2 linked regions of the Homo sapiens genome follow. The protein of the gene in region 1 purifies or fractionates together with the protein of each later gene. This does not show direct contact. Each region holds a gene or a part of one and is shown on either strand. Other genes may lie near its edges.

Region 1 (7,843 bases):
TTTTTGTCCCCAGTCTTGGCCCCACAATTCCTCACTGCCCTGGTAGCTCTTTGATGCCTTTAAAAAATGTTTTCCCAGCTTTTCGAGTTCTCAATGAAAAAGGATTGCTATCAAACAACCCAGTTTTCCTCTCTGGAAAGGGAGGCTTGACCAGTGCTTTTAGAATGTACACAATACAAAACCCACATCTCCAAAGTAACATACAGTATATTTACTCATAGGCTATGTAAACAAACACTGTACATATGAAGTTTTAGAAATATGTGAGAAATAACTTTTAACTGATGACAAATGTATATCAACAGTGATTTCAACTTTATAAAAGGTGTGTGTGCATGTAGAGAAGCATTGGAATTGTCTATGGGGAGAGTTGCTTTAAAAAGGCAGTTTTGTATACTTTTTTGTAAAGTTAATCACTGATTTGCCCCCCACCTCCACAGTTTATTATAAAAACTTTCAAACATACAGCCAGGTAGAAATAATTTTACAGTGAACATTTGTGTAACTACCACTGGATTCTACCATTAGCATCTTACTATATCACACATCTGTTCATCTATCCATTCCTCTATGTCAATCCATCGTATTTTTCATATATTTCAAAGTAAGTTGCAGACATCAGTACACCTCCCCCTAAATACTTCAGTATGCATTTCAATAACTAGAGTTCATTTTTGGTTTGCAATTTTTTTTTTCTTTTCAGGCAAAATCTACATACATTGCAATCCACAGATCTTAAATGTAATTTTCTAAGTTTTGACAGATGTATAAGCCTATGAATTGTGACATTTAAAAACCAGAACTGGGATTTTCTTTTTTCAAATCCTTGCTTACTCAATTGAAATTAGTGTGAGATGCCTTCTGCCCTGAGCAGTTTGTACAGCAGGCCTATGCCTACATGGGTGGGCAGGGCCAAGTTTCGTCCAATGTATGACGCTAGGATTGGGGCTAGGAACTAGGACTGTGTAGCTGGAGGCAAAGAATCTGGGAACATTTCTTCTTGTATCAGTGGTAGCCAGTGCAGGGAGAATCAGGGCAAAGGCTGGGCGCAGTGGCTCATGCCTGTAATTCCAGCACTTTGGGAGGCTTAGGTGGGTGGATCACCTGGGGTCAGGAGTTTGAGACCAGCCTGGCCAACATGGTGAAACCCTGTCTCTAGTAAAAATACAAAAAAATTAGCTGGGGGTGGTGGCGGGTCCTGTAATCCCAGCTACTTGGGAGGCTGAGGCAGGAGAATCGCTTGATTGCTTGAACCCAGGAGGTGGAGGTTGCAGTGAGCTGAAATGGCGCCATTGCACTCCAGCCTGGGCAATGAGTGAAACTCTGTCTTAAAAATATATATATATATATCGAGCAAAGGCTCCTACAACTCACCTTCTCAGGGTAAGGGGCTGTATGTCCAGTCTCTTAGATACAAAGTTCCAGTGAAAGACTCTTGGGGTTGGCCAGGCGCAGTGGTTCACCCCTGTAATCCCAGCATTTTGGGAGGCTGAGGCAGGCAGATCGCCTGAGGTCAGGAGTTCAAGACCAGCCTGGCCAACATGGTGAAACCCTGTCTCTACTAAAAATACAAAATTAGCCAGGCGTGGTGGCGCATGCCTGTAATCCCAGCTACTCGGGAGGCTGAGGCAGGAGAATCGCTTGAACCCGGGAGGCAGAGGTTGCAGTGAGCCGAGATCGTGCCATTGCACTCAAGCCTGGGCAACAAGAGCAAAAACTCCGTCTCAAAAAAAAGAAAAAAAAAACTCGGGTTTGAACAGTGTGGCCTGCAAAGGGACTTGGCTCTCATTTACTTCACCTTTCTATCTTATTGCCTTGCTTTATTTTCATTTCAGCATTTAGGAAATTTTCTTGTTCTTTTGTTTATTGTCTGTGTTCCTATCCAGAATGTAAGCTCCTGAGAGCAGAGGCCTCTTCTGTCCTCTTCTGTCTTATTCCCTGCTGTGTCCAGCACATGGTCTGCACTCAATAAGTATTTGTTGCGAGAATGACTCATTGTTCCATTTACTAGAAGGGGAAAGGAGGCCCCGAGAGGGGAAATGACTTGCCTAAAGAAACAGGAGTCCTTTCCCCCCATCCTCCAGCTCTCCTGATCCTCTCCTTTGCTCATAAACCCTGTGACTGTTGGGGCACCTGTGGGGTGGCTGCGAAATGCCTACCTGTAGGTATGTGCTCCTGTGGGTTGGGACTAATGCAGGACTAGGAGTAGGAGGGCTCTGCAGTCCCCCATTTGGGTAGGCTTGGGCACAGGAAACTGCCTCCTTTCCCTTCCTCAGTTCTCTTCTCTTCCAGGATAACCCTTTACTCTGTGATGATGATGGGCGAGGGAGCTCAGGACACTCTGGGAGCCAAGTAGGATGGAGGGCTGGGCAGGTCTCTACAGGCAGGCAGCTGAGGAGGGGGCTCTGTCTTCTTCCAATGGAAACAGCATCTGTGTGGTTGCTGAGCTGAACCCTCCTTCCCAGGGTCTCCAGGGTCTGTAGTTCTCCTTGGTCTGTAGTTCTGTCACCCCTGTGCACACCCCACAAATGCTTTGACCATAGTGCAGCTGTCTCATGGGGAGAGAAAGAACTTTCATTTCCTGAGAATGGGTTACTTGCCAAGCTGAACATGCCTAATTCTCAATACAGCCCTGGGAAGTTCCAGGAAGAGTTGCAGAGGGAGGCTCAGGTCACCCAGCACATGGTGGGGCTGGAAACCCCGGGCTCTTTGACTACCACGCCCAACAACAATTTTTCCAAGTGTGGTCATATCCAAAAGGGGTCCTTCAGATAATCTCAAAGATGAACACTTACTGCAATCACTATTTCAGTTATATTAAAAATATAAGTAGCATGTCAACCCCTTCTAGGGTAATACAAATAAAAAGTAAAAAAAAACTAATCAACAAAAAGAAACATATTAAGAAATAATAGTGTAAATTAGATATAAGGCAAAAGTAAGCTGGTGGGGTTTGGTTCTAGAGCATAGGGCTGCTATCCCAGCTACTGAGGTACCTCCTGCGTTTGCAGTCATTACTTGTTAGGGGTTTTCACACTTTGACTTCCTGCTTTTCACTTTTCCATTCGGTGTTGCGGGATAGATTGAGTTTGGACTTAAGGGGATATGTGAATGTTGGGCGTGGGGAAGGATCCACCCTCACTGGGGTCTGAGCGTTAGGAGAGTAGGCGTGTGGACTCTGGGCCTTTGGGCTGGAGTGTCTATTGGTCAGAGGTGTCGGGTTCGGCCATTTCACCCTCACCTCTAGGCTGGCCCTGCTGAGAGGGAGAGAGAGTCACAACTCCCACTCAAGGAGAGACTTCCCTGCTGGGGAGGGGACGGCCTGAGGCCCGCCCCACCCATATTCCCAGGCCCTGGCTCTGGTTAGCATGGACTAACTTATTCCACAATACGGAGGAGTGGGGCACAGAGTCCCTAACTGGCGCCCCAACAGAAGGCGGTGGTGGGGACCGGAGATGGTAGGACTGGAGATGGTAGGGGCTGCTGATGTGAGCCCACAATACGGAGGAGTGGGGCACAGAGTCCCTAACTGGCGCCCCAACAGAAGGCGGTGGTGGGGACCGGAGATGGTAGGACTGGAGATGGTGGGGGCTGCTGGGAGCCCCTTTTGCGCCGCAGTGTTTCCTGCCATGAAGAGTTGCCGCCGGTCACAACCCTTCCCCGGGGGCGCCCCGAATGTGGGACTCCTTCCGGCCTGGGGTGCGTGAGGGGGACTCAGGGGTTGCCCGGTCTGGAGGAGAGACTCGCCGCCACCTACCCCGGGAACCGCAGACTCTGGGTCTGGGATAAAGCGTCCCCTACCCGCAAGCTCGGTTTGTGCGCTACTGTGCAATCTGTCTTTTGCCTGCAGACGCCCAGCCGCTCGCCCTGCGCGGGTCTCGGAATGTCCAGGGGTCCCTACTGGGGATCACAACCCGGCGAAATGTCGCATTTGCCACCACCTATCTCGACTGCGTAATCGGCTTTCAGCCGCAGACGCTCAGGTCCTGCAGCACCCGCGGGGATCCGTGTAGGAACCTGCTGCCGCTGGATGGACTGAGCGATTGCTTCGCGGGTGTCACGCACCAGACGCCGTGCCGGGAGCGCCGGGAAGGGGGTACGCGCCCCAACCCCGGCCGGGGGAGGGCGCACTCTGGCTCCTCTCTGCGTTTTGAGCCTCCCCTCCCCCGCCAGGCGTATCGCAAAAGGCACCTCCATCGCAGAGCACCATGTGTTGTGCTTCTACTCAGCTCGGTGGCGAGCGGGGCCCCAGCATGCGCATCTGGAAAGCGGGGGAGATTACCCTGGAGCTCGGGTGGGGACGGCGTGGGCTGACTTGATATAAGACGACACCCACGGAGCCAGATCCGTTCTAGGGACTTGGCAGGTTCCTCTCCCTCCCCAGTGAGATCCGTCGTTCTTTGCAGCAATTAGGGGAGGGAAAAAAAAGACCCACAGTATCACGTTTGGAGAGGGTTAGGAAGATGGCTCTCGAGTTGCAGGCCGCCCTGGTGGCTAGACATTGGTGTAGTTTGTGCCTGGCCTCGGTTTCCTGATCTGTAAACTGGGAAGAAGGCCCAAGTCATGAGGCCTGTGACTGTAGAATGGCTGAAGGCACTGGTGCACTCGCAGCCGGTCCTTCCGGGGTCCAGCTTCCCGAAGGACTGGGCAGCCCCGGGGCGAACCCCTCTGGAGCTACCAGGAGAACGTGCGACCGGGTTCGGCGCCCCAGCCGGCAAGTGAGCGCCCAGCGGAGCGCAAGGGCGGGGCCCGCGCGGGCCGGAGACGCCCGTTCGCTGTCGGCCAACCAGCGCCTGTCTCTGAACAGCCAATGAACACGCGTCTTACAGCCAAGGCCGGGTCGGGAGCGAGGCTGCGGCGAGTGCGGCGCTGACAGAGACGCGCGCGCGCGCGATCGCGCTCGGACCCCGGCCGCTGCCGCCATCACTGTCGCCCGCCCAGTCGCCCCTCAGCCGCTTCCCCTCGCCATGGAGGCGAGGCCGCCGCCGCCGCCGCGGGGCTCGGAGCCGCGGGCCGGGCGGCGGCCCTGAGGGCTAGTGGCGGCCCGAAACGCCGCCGCGGAGCCGAGGCGGAGCCGCTGTCCTCGTCCCCAGCGGTCCCGCCCAACGCCCGACTCTGTGAGTGTTCGCGGCCGCTGCGCCCGGGTGGGCTCCGGAAGGGGGAGCGGCTCCCGGGGGCGGTGGGAGGGGTCCCGGGCCACAGCCCAGAGCCCGGAGCCCGAAGCCCTAAGCCATCTTTTCCGGGTAGAAGCCTGCGGGCGCCTGCAGGTTGATTGTGCATCCTTGCGGGTCCGTCGCGGGGAGGGGGTCCCCGGAAACGTGCCGGCCCGAGTGCCGACCCCTCGCGACTGCCCAGGAACTTTGCATGCGTCCTTCTGGGACCAGGCCAGGGCACTGCCAGAGTTGATTCTCAGAGAAGAAACTTAGAACGGCGAGAACAGAATTTGCTCAGGTCCATTTAATGGGAGGAAAGAGGAAAACTCTTGGCATGAGAAAATTTGCTTTTGCAGTGACCAACTTTTCTTTCCCTTCAAGTCCACCTCCCTCGGTCCCCCGGCCCGTCTCCCAGGCCCCTCTCCTTGCCGCCCTCTCCCAACTGTTGAGGCTGTTTAAGAAGGGAAATAAGGGCTGAGAGCTGCCCAGAATTCAGAATAGGCCAATTGAGAACGCAGGTCCCCTCCCTTTTTACTTTCGGTAAATAAAAAATTTTTTTTGAAAAAATTAGTTACTAATTATATCTCCTGAAGATTAAAAAAAAAAAATAGCAGAGCAGAGTCCTGTCTTGAGGGTTTCGTTTTTATTTTTGAGATCACTGATGATATTTGTAAGACAGGAAAAGAAGAATGTGCAAATCCACCCTCTGCAGGGTGAACGCCATCAGAAGCCTTTGCTCAGGAGAGGGATTCCGGCTCTAGAACCAGTCCACATCACCCTGGAGATGGCTTCGTTTGCCACCTGCTAGCTGTGCAGGCAGCCTGAGAAACAGAAGATGGTGGGCGAGAGGAGGACTGACTAGGAAAGGGCGAACATCTTCCTGCCTGGCCACTCCTTTCAGAAACAGATCTGATGCTGTCACTTGTTTACTTAAAAACTCCCTCGCTTTTCTTTTTCCCATGGGATGAATGAAGCCTAAAATGCCTTATCAGGTCATACAAAGCCCTTGACAATCTTGCCTCAATTTACTCCTTTACTTTTAGCCTAATCGGATCCTCCAATTCTCCTTCCCCTCATCCCGCTTGCTGGCTAGTATTCAGAGCTGCTTGACTGCCCCCTCACATGTTGGGATGTTTTTGTTTTATGTGATCCTCTTTCTTCCCCACCTTTACCTGCCAAGCTCCACTTTTTCTTTTAAAGTTCTTCTCATTTGAGAAGCTTCTTGCGGGCAGGAGCTGTGTCTTGCCCACCTTTCTATCTCCCGTGGTGGGAGAATCCTCCAAGTTGTCTTGTAGATTCTTTCCAATCTCTTCTCTCTTATGCCTAGGCTCTGTTTATTTCCCGGTATCCACTTCCCAAGAGATTTTTTCGTGTTTTGAAGGCCTGCTTGGAGTACATGCCCAGGACTTTTAGTATTTCTGATTCCCGGCTTCCCCATGTCCATCCCACCCAGCCCCCATAAGCAGTCAGCAGGTGGGAACTGGTAGGTCCCATATCCCACTGGCCTCCAAAAAACTGTCTCTGAAAGACTAAAAGCCCTTCAGTCTCTTTTCACCTCTGCCTGCTCAAAGTGACCTGGCTGATACCGTGCATTGTAAGGCATGGTGGGATCCCGGGGCCTGTTCTCTGTTTAGCCACTTAACATCTGGGTGAAATACAGAACCAGAAAAACCACCCCTCTGACTTCAGTACATTCATGTGTCTTCCCTTTGCCAGGTGAATTGCTTGGGATACAAAAGTGAGGAAGTCAGTCCTTAACCTTTGAGGAACTCAGAGTCTAATGTAGGACAGGTGGATATAAATACATCACAGGTGCTATAAGATTGTGATAATAATAATAGCTATTTTTTATTTGCCTTGTGACAAGCTATGTAATGTTTTCCATGAATTCCCTCAGTCTTTTCAACAGTCATAAAAGGGCTTATTCCTACTCTACAGGGTTGGAAACTGAGGCCAAACAGTGGGCAAATGAGGGAATAGTCAAGATTTGAATTTTGGCCGTGTATTTGCAGAGCCTCTGCCAGGCTGTGTAGGGAGCATCCCCTGCCTGGGTGATTTGGGAAAGCTTTCCTGGGACGGGGGGGCCTTCGGATCATGAAGGATGCATAGGAGTTTGCGCGTGGTGGACTGCACACATAGGCAAGAGGGAGCAGCACAAGCAAACTTGGTGGTGGAAGGAATCCACTGTCCTTGGGGAGGAGGGAAGAGGTTAATCATAGCTGGATCAGGTAAGGACAATGGAGAGCTACTAGAGGATTTAAAGGAGGTCAGGGACTTGGGCTGAAAGAATTTTGGAAAGATCATTTGGGGGCAATATAGGGCCAAATGCAGATGCCCCTGCAATATAGGAGGCACTGGTTGGGTCTGACAGAGGTAGAGTCACAGCCTCTTAGACCCAGAGGAAGGTGTAGAGAGAATCCTGCTCAATTTTGGGAAAAGATAATTAATGCAGATGAGAGAAAAATTCAAAAGTTCTAGCAATACAAAAGAGTATATAGAGAAAAATGTCCCTCCTACCCTGGCCCCAAGTCTCCTGTCTCCCTAACCTCCTCCCCAGAGATGGCTGAAGTTTTCAGTTTATATGGCCTTCCATAGACACTGTTGCTTTATAAATATGTGCCTGCTTATCCATACTCCTCCCACCATGGGACGTACCACTCACACCTTACTGGGTTTTTTTACTTAACATA
Region 2 (7,033 bases), on another chromosome or scaffold:
GCTCTGCATGCTCCATGGCAGGGTGCCTGCTTGCCCTGCATTTGCATAACTAGTAGGGCTGCTTGGCAATACAAGAAGGTCTTGCTCTAAGGCTTCTCATCAGGCCACTTCATGGAAGTCTCTTCTGAGTCCTTCCAGCAACCCTGCAGGGTAGCAATAAAATTCTCATTTTATAGATGAGAAAACTGAAGCTCAGAGAGACGCTGTTGGAAGGAACTTGTCCAGGCCCTGTGGCTGATAGGAGGTAGAACTGGGCTTGGGGCCTGTACTCTGCAGCGCACCTCTTGCTCTGCTCTGCAGAGCCCATGGGTTCTCAGCTGGACTCCCACTCAGCCCCTCTCTGGCTCTGGGCTCCATGGTCATTTGCTTCTGCCTCCTCCGTCTTGCCCAGCACCATAGAGTAGAAACACCCACTCTTTCCTCATGCACAGTCTGGAACCCATAGTTCCCTTTTCCTGAGGGTTCCCAGAGAATATTTTAGGGGGGCACTGAATGCACCCTTAGGCTTCATGTCCAAGGCCAAGTGCTAAATGGATACTTGGCTGAAGCTGGGGGCGCAGTGACTTTCACCAGTGAAAGAACTCTGGGAAATAGCAGAAATCTGAAATCTTATTCAAACATGTACTTATTATTACCATTTTGTTCAATATTTAACTTGTCAGCTTTTAATTGTTTAACATGACAGTGCAGGTACGGTAATATTTCTGCACTCAGCATTTTTCTTGTGGCTGCACATTTGCGATACTAAATAGAGGCTTGCTGTATTTAATTATTCAAAAGCTCTCAGTCATTAGTTTTGCCCATAAAACCAAACTTGCATAAGTATTTCTTTTTGCTTATTTCATACTGAGAACATGATTACATCTAGAATATTTACCTGTGTTTGAAAGTGGATATTCAGATATTAGTAGTAAACCAGAAAGTCATGGCATATGTTTCGGTGAAACTGACATTTCCCTGGTTGGGTTTCAGGATGACTTCTGATCACAAGCATGGGTCACAGGTCCGGGATCCATAGATGCCAGTGCAGCCCCAGGGCTTGGCTCCTTCACTCCATCAGCAGGCGGGTTGTCCTCTACCCTTGTGCACCTGGTCACACCCCCCTGCCAACAGAGCACCTAGGAATGGAATTGTCTGTGTGACAGCCTCTCATACTAGAAGCTAGAATTAGGTGCAAGGATGTTTTCTATCCTCTGTGCTCCACACAGGGCCTGGCATGCGACGAATGCTCCATCAAAGCTGGCTGGTGGTTAGTAAGTGAGCATCAGTGAACACAGGGGCTTTGAAAGGAAGCACTAGGACCCATGGGGTCTCACTGTTTTGTTGTTTTCTCAGGAACCTTTTGGGGATGTGACAGAGAGGAAGCAGCTCCGGGACAAGCTCCAGTGTAAAGACTTCAAGTGGTTCTTGGAGACTGTGTATCCAGAACTGCATGTGCCTGAGGACAGGCCTGGCTTCTTCGGGATGGTGAGTGAGGGTGGTGGGCCCACGGCAGGCAGGGACTTCCCTGGCCTCTGGGTCTGCTCTGCAAATCCTGGGCAAGAAAGGCCACGTCATGGGGAGCACTGGCTTCCTCCACTCCCACCCGCCTGCCCACCCCCCACCACCTTTTTATCCACTGCCCTTCTTTCTCCCTGTGAGCGTCTGGGCCGTAGGTGCAGAATGTCAGAGCTGGAAGCCATCTCAAAATTGACAACTATTTTGTAGGTAAGGAAACTGAGGCTTATCTGGTGTTTCCATGTCCTAGTTTTTACCAACGCCTTATCATATTACTTCTAGTCTCAATGGCTGGACTAGTTAATAATTCCAAGTTTGGAAGTCTACAGAGGCAATAGTGGGTATAGGGGAGTCACTTCGAGTATTTCAAAAAACCTAAAAAATGTTTTTGGGATGAGACCAGATAAAATGTCCAGTGTCTTTTGTTTTTGCTGGGAATGACACCAGCTTAGCAAGGTCTCCTCTGCTGTGATGTGTTGATCAGAAGTGCTGGTGTTCCATTCTAGAAGTCTTTGATACATATAAAGCAGGATATTCATGTTACATTCTATTTTCATTATGAAAATATTCAAACATATAGAAATGCAGAGAGAATGGTATGAGAATGGTATAATGAATACCATCCCTGAGATTCTAGAATTTTCAAGATCCTGCCTCTCTTTATCTCTTTCTCTCTCCTGTACTTCACCTCCACATTTTCCTCTTTTTAAGCAAATCCCGGGCATTGTGTCATTTCTCTCCTCTGCATTTTATGCATTTTCATAACATTTGGACATTATCTTACAAAACCGTAGAAATGAACAAGTATTTCTTGGTATCATTTAATGTCTAGTTCTAATACATATTCCCCCAACTTTTCCAGTTTCTCTTTGAGTGGCTGGCTAATTCGAATTGGGATCCAAACAAGGTGCACACATTGCATGTGATGGTTGTGTCTTGTCTCCTAAATCTCTTTTAATCTAAGGCAGCCCTCTTCCTTTTTCTTGTTAATATCTTTAACTTGTTGAAAAAACAATATGTTACCTGTGGAGTGTCTCACTCTTGCAATTGCTATTTTTTTCTTTGTGGTGTCTTCAAGTTGTGCCTCTCTCCCCCATATTTCTTTAAGATAGAAGTGAGTTCTAAAGGTTTGATTAGAGTCAGGATCCACCTTTTTGGCAAGAACACTTTGTGGGTGATGTTATGTGTTCATGTTGTGTCATATCAGGAGCATAGGAAGTATGGTCATCTTTAGTGATAAGGTTGACCAGTGGGTTAATGGAGTATCCCTCACCTGGACCAGTCATTATAAGACCCCCATCAGCCTCTGTCTCATGTTTTTAGTAGCCACTGATAACCATTGCCTAGGCCCATTATTTCAAATGGAGTTGCCAAATGGTGATTTTTCTCTTTCATTTCTTCCACATTTATTAGCTGAAATTTTTCATAAAGAAGAACACTCCCTCATTAACTAAAGCAATTTGGTATATGTGAGTTTTAGAATTCATACAGAAAAGGCACGACAAATTCTTTTTTTTTTTTTTGAGAGAAAAGTCTTGCTCTTGTCCCCCAGGCTGGAGTGCAATGGCGCGCTCTCAGCTCACTGCAACCTCTGCCTCATGGGTTCAAGCAATTCTCCTGCCTCAGCCTCCCGAGTAGCTGGGATTATAGGCACCTGCCACCATGCCTGGCTAATTTTTTTTTTTTGTATTTTTAGCAGAGACGGGGTTTCACTATGTTGGCCAGGCTGGTCTTGAACTACTGACCTCAGGTGATCTGCCTGCCTCAGCCTCCCAAACTATTGGGATTACAGGCATGAGCCACCATGCCCGGCCAAGGCATAACAAATTCTTAAGTCTTTTCTTTATTTGCTTATTTTCAGAGTAAGAGTTGGTATTTTAGTTTCCTCCAGTTGTATCTACTGGGTTGTTTTTTTTTTTGTTGTGGCTCATTGTTTTTTTTGGCTTTTTCTCTTCTTGAGTGTCATTGTAAACTAATGGGTGTTTAAATAGCCGGTGTGCTTCAATCAATTCATCTTTTCTTCTTTGTATTGTTTTTTGAGACAGGCTTCTATTCTGTCACCCAGGCTGGAGCACAGTGGCACCATTGTAGCTCACTGTAGCCTGGATCACTGGGCTCAAGTGATCCTCCCACCTCAGCTTCTTAAGTAGCTGGGACTACAGGTGAGCACCACCACACCTGGCTAATTTTTTATTTTTATTTTTAGTAAAGACTAAGGTCTCGCTATGTTGCCCAGGCTGGTCTTGAACTCCTGAGCTCAAGCATTTCTCCTGCCAAGGCCTCCCAAAGTGCTGGGATTACAGGTATGAGCCACTGTGCCCAGCCCAATTCATCTTTTTAAAAAATATATGAAAATTGTTTTTGGCCAGTGGGAGTCCCTTTATTTTGGCTTCTGAGGTCTTTGACACCTTACAGTGGCGTTGATAGCCTCCTTGATTCTGGCCAAGTTGTCCCATTCGAGTTTTAAACATTTCCTGCCATTCCTCCCAGAAGCCCTGCTCCTTTGTTGGGTAACGGTATTGGGAGTCAGTCTGGATGCTGGCGGTGCCCGTTGCTATGCGTTGTCATTGCCTCCAGACCATGCAGTTTAACAGAAATATAATGAGAGCCACCGTTGTAACTTAAATTTTTTTAGTAACCATATTAAAAAAAAAGTAAAGTTAATGAAATGTTTAACTCAGTATATCCCAAATAATATCATTTCAACATATAATTAATATAAGTATTTATTCATTGAGGCATTTTACATTCTTTTTTCATACTAAGCCTTGAAATCTGGTGTGAATTTTATACTTATAGCATATCTCAATTTGGATTAGTTACATTTCAAGTGTCCAGTAGCCACAGTGGCCAGTGGCCGCCACATGAAATAGCACAGCTCTAAATTTTTCTCATTGGGCAGAGAAAGGAAATTCGTATTTTTGAGAAACAGATCATGAGCTTATATTAATATCTGAAAATCCAATGTAGTCTTGAAAAATTTTCTTTGATAGCATACTCATATTTCTTTTTTCTTACCCTGAAAATCTTGGTTTTAAACAATATTAACATAATTACTTATTTTCTTTATCCTAAAATATATTGAAAATAGTTTCAAGATAATTAATACAGTACTACAGCTTAGAGTATTATACTGAATGAGGTTTATAATTTCTTTGCAGCTCAGTTTGTTTATAGAATATATTTCATAGGTGGTATTTTCAAACATACCATGCTCTAAAGTGATTTAAATTAATTCTTTTTTTTTTTTTGGTGGTGGGGAGGACAGAGTCTTGCCTTATTGCCCAGGCTGGAGTGCAGTGGCATGATCTCAGCTCACTGCAACCTCCGTCTTCTGGGTTCAAGTGATTCTCCCGCCTCAGTCTCCCAAGTAGCTGGTACTACAGGTGCACCCCACCACACCTGGCTAAGTTTTGTATTTTTAGTAGAGATGCGGTTTTGCCGTGTTGGCCAGGCTGGTCTAGAACTCCTGGCCTCAAGTGATCCACCTGCCTCCGTCTCCCAAAGTGCTGGGATCACAGGCATGAGCCACTGAACCCAGCCTAAAATAATTCTTTCTTTGTGTCTATCGCCTGCTTGATTTAGTTAGCTTAATTAATCTAGTTCGAGGTATCAACCCAGGTATATTTGGACTTGCACAGCAGTAAGGCTGCTACTAATGAGAAAGAAAGAGAGAGGAGCTTTCAGGCCATGAAGAGTTTATCTCTCTGGTCCTCAGGCTTATCAACTTAAAATAGGGGTAAGGATTCTTGCCTGCAGAACAAGGAAGCACTTTTAAAGCTAGAAGGTGCTGTACAGAAAAGACTCTTACCTTTGCGTCTAGCTCTTGAAGCAGGCTCTCCTCTCATGCCAGGTACCCTCCCCAAGCCTTGTGTGGCATCTGTTAGTGTCTATAAATCTGGACTGAAATGCCACATTTATGTTTTATTTAGCTCCAGAACAAAGGACTAACAGACTACTGCTTTGACTATAACCCTCCCGATGAAAACCAGATTGTGGGACACCAGGTCATTCTGTACCTCTGTCATGGGATGGGCCAGAATCAGGTAGGTATGAGCCTCAAAAGAGGAGAAAGCTGTGTGTTTTGTTAAAAAAATTAAATAGTTGAATTTTTTTCTTGTAAAAGTAATATTTGGGAAATATAAAAAGTAGAAGCCTAGGGTGGCCAGACTCAGAGAGACCACTGTTAAAATTAAAATGTGTTTTCTTCCCATCATTTTTTACACATAACACACAGAGATTATGTGTTGTAAATAGTTGTCATAATGTCTGTATGTTTTATATTCCATTATTTCCATTCCCTTCATCTACTTTTCTTATGTTATTAGATACCCCTTGAGAATATCATTCCTAGTGGCCACTTGATATTTCATTTTGTACCTGTATTACTGTTTCGTTAACTGGTTCCCTGCCTCCCTGTCTTTGCAATTATAAATAACCCTGCCTCTAACACCTTGGGTCAGACAGAAGGAAGGATAAAGTAACAGATCTGCATTTCAGATGATTTCCTTAGAATTAATTGTTAAGTGGAATGACAGGTTTAATGCATAGGGCCACCTTGCAAGGTGGTGTTTAGGGACATTGCCTCAGCTGGGGGCCAGGTGTATCTGTCTGGGTGAAGGGCTGTAATTCAGGCTGGGCAGGGGAGATTCAGTCCTGGGGGAGTCTGAAGACCAGAAAAGGACCCCCAGCCCTGGAAAGCAGTTGACAGGACCCTTGGAGGATGCAGGAATGGAGAGAAGTGTTGGTTCTGGGCCTCTGAAGCTTCACCGTACCAAGGAGTTATCAGACACCAGGAAACAAAGGGATAGAGATTCAGATGTTGTTTTTTCCAATCTGGATTCACCCCAATGCCACTTGAATATGAGGCCTTCTTATGGTCAAGAGTAAACTTTCTTAATTCCAACCCCTGCAACCTTAAATTATTTAGGTTTTCAACACTGTTTAGAACAGCCTTCCTCAAAGCTGATGGTACCTGAGTGCTACCATCAGCATCATCTGGGAGCTTGGAAATGCACATTTTCAGACTGATCCCAACACTACCGAATCCCAGACTCTTGTTTTAAGCAGCTTTTCAGGAGATAATGGTGTGACAAGCCCTGCTCTGTGCGCCTTAAGAACACCCACCTGTGTCAGAATTTTTGAAAGGGGCTGGTGGGGTGGGTGGGTGTCTTGTCAAAGATGCAGAAAATGCAGCTTCCTAGGCCCCACCTCACACATAAGGAATCCTTATTCCGTCTCTGGGATGGGGCCAGCAATCAGCATTTTTAACAGTCACTGTAGGTAGTTCCTAGTACACTCAGGTAGGAAAACCATTGTCCGGGAAGAACCAAGTCTTCCCGTTAGCGGTCACATTGTCTGCTTGTGCACAGCACTTTACATCTTCTAGGAACTGTCATATTGGGGGTTTGGGAGGAGAGACTGAGGAAAAGGAGAGGAAGTAGCTAGTCAAGGTCACAGAGAGCCCCCAAGAGCTAGTGCTGCGATGGGTCCATTTCCCTTCCTCCCATCCCACACCAACACAGCATTCAGCACT

Evidence for each region.
Region 2: the proteins of PTPRA (region 1) and GALNT12 purify together in Homo sapiens (affinity purification with mass spectrometry; 2 studies listed by BioGRID and IntAct, with this or other methods). This does not show direct contact.

Annotation. Positions count from the first base shown.
Region 1 is NC_000020.11:2,868,644-2,876,486, forward strand, and holds the start of PTPRA (receptor-type tyrosine-protein phosphatase alpha isoform 1 precursor), read left to right. Parts: upstream 1-4,837; 5' UTR 4,838-5,117; intron 5,118-7,843. UniProt on the Homo sapiens protein: Tyrosine protein phosphatase which is involved in integrin-mediated focal adhesion formation.
Region 2 is NC_000009.12:98,838,667-98,845,699, forward strand, and holds part of GALNT12 (polypeptide N-acetylgalactosaminyltransferase 12), read left to right. Parts: intron 1-1,335; coding exon 1,336-1,467; intron 1,468-5,429; coding exon 5,430-5,543; intron 5,544-7,033. UniProt on the Homo sapiens protein: Catalyzes the initial reaction in O-linked oligosaccharide biosynthesis, the transfer of an N-acetyl-D-galactosamine residue to a serine or threonine residue on the protein receptor.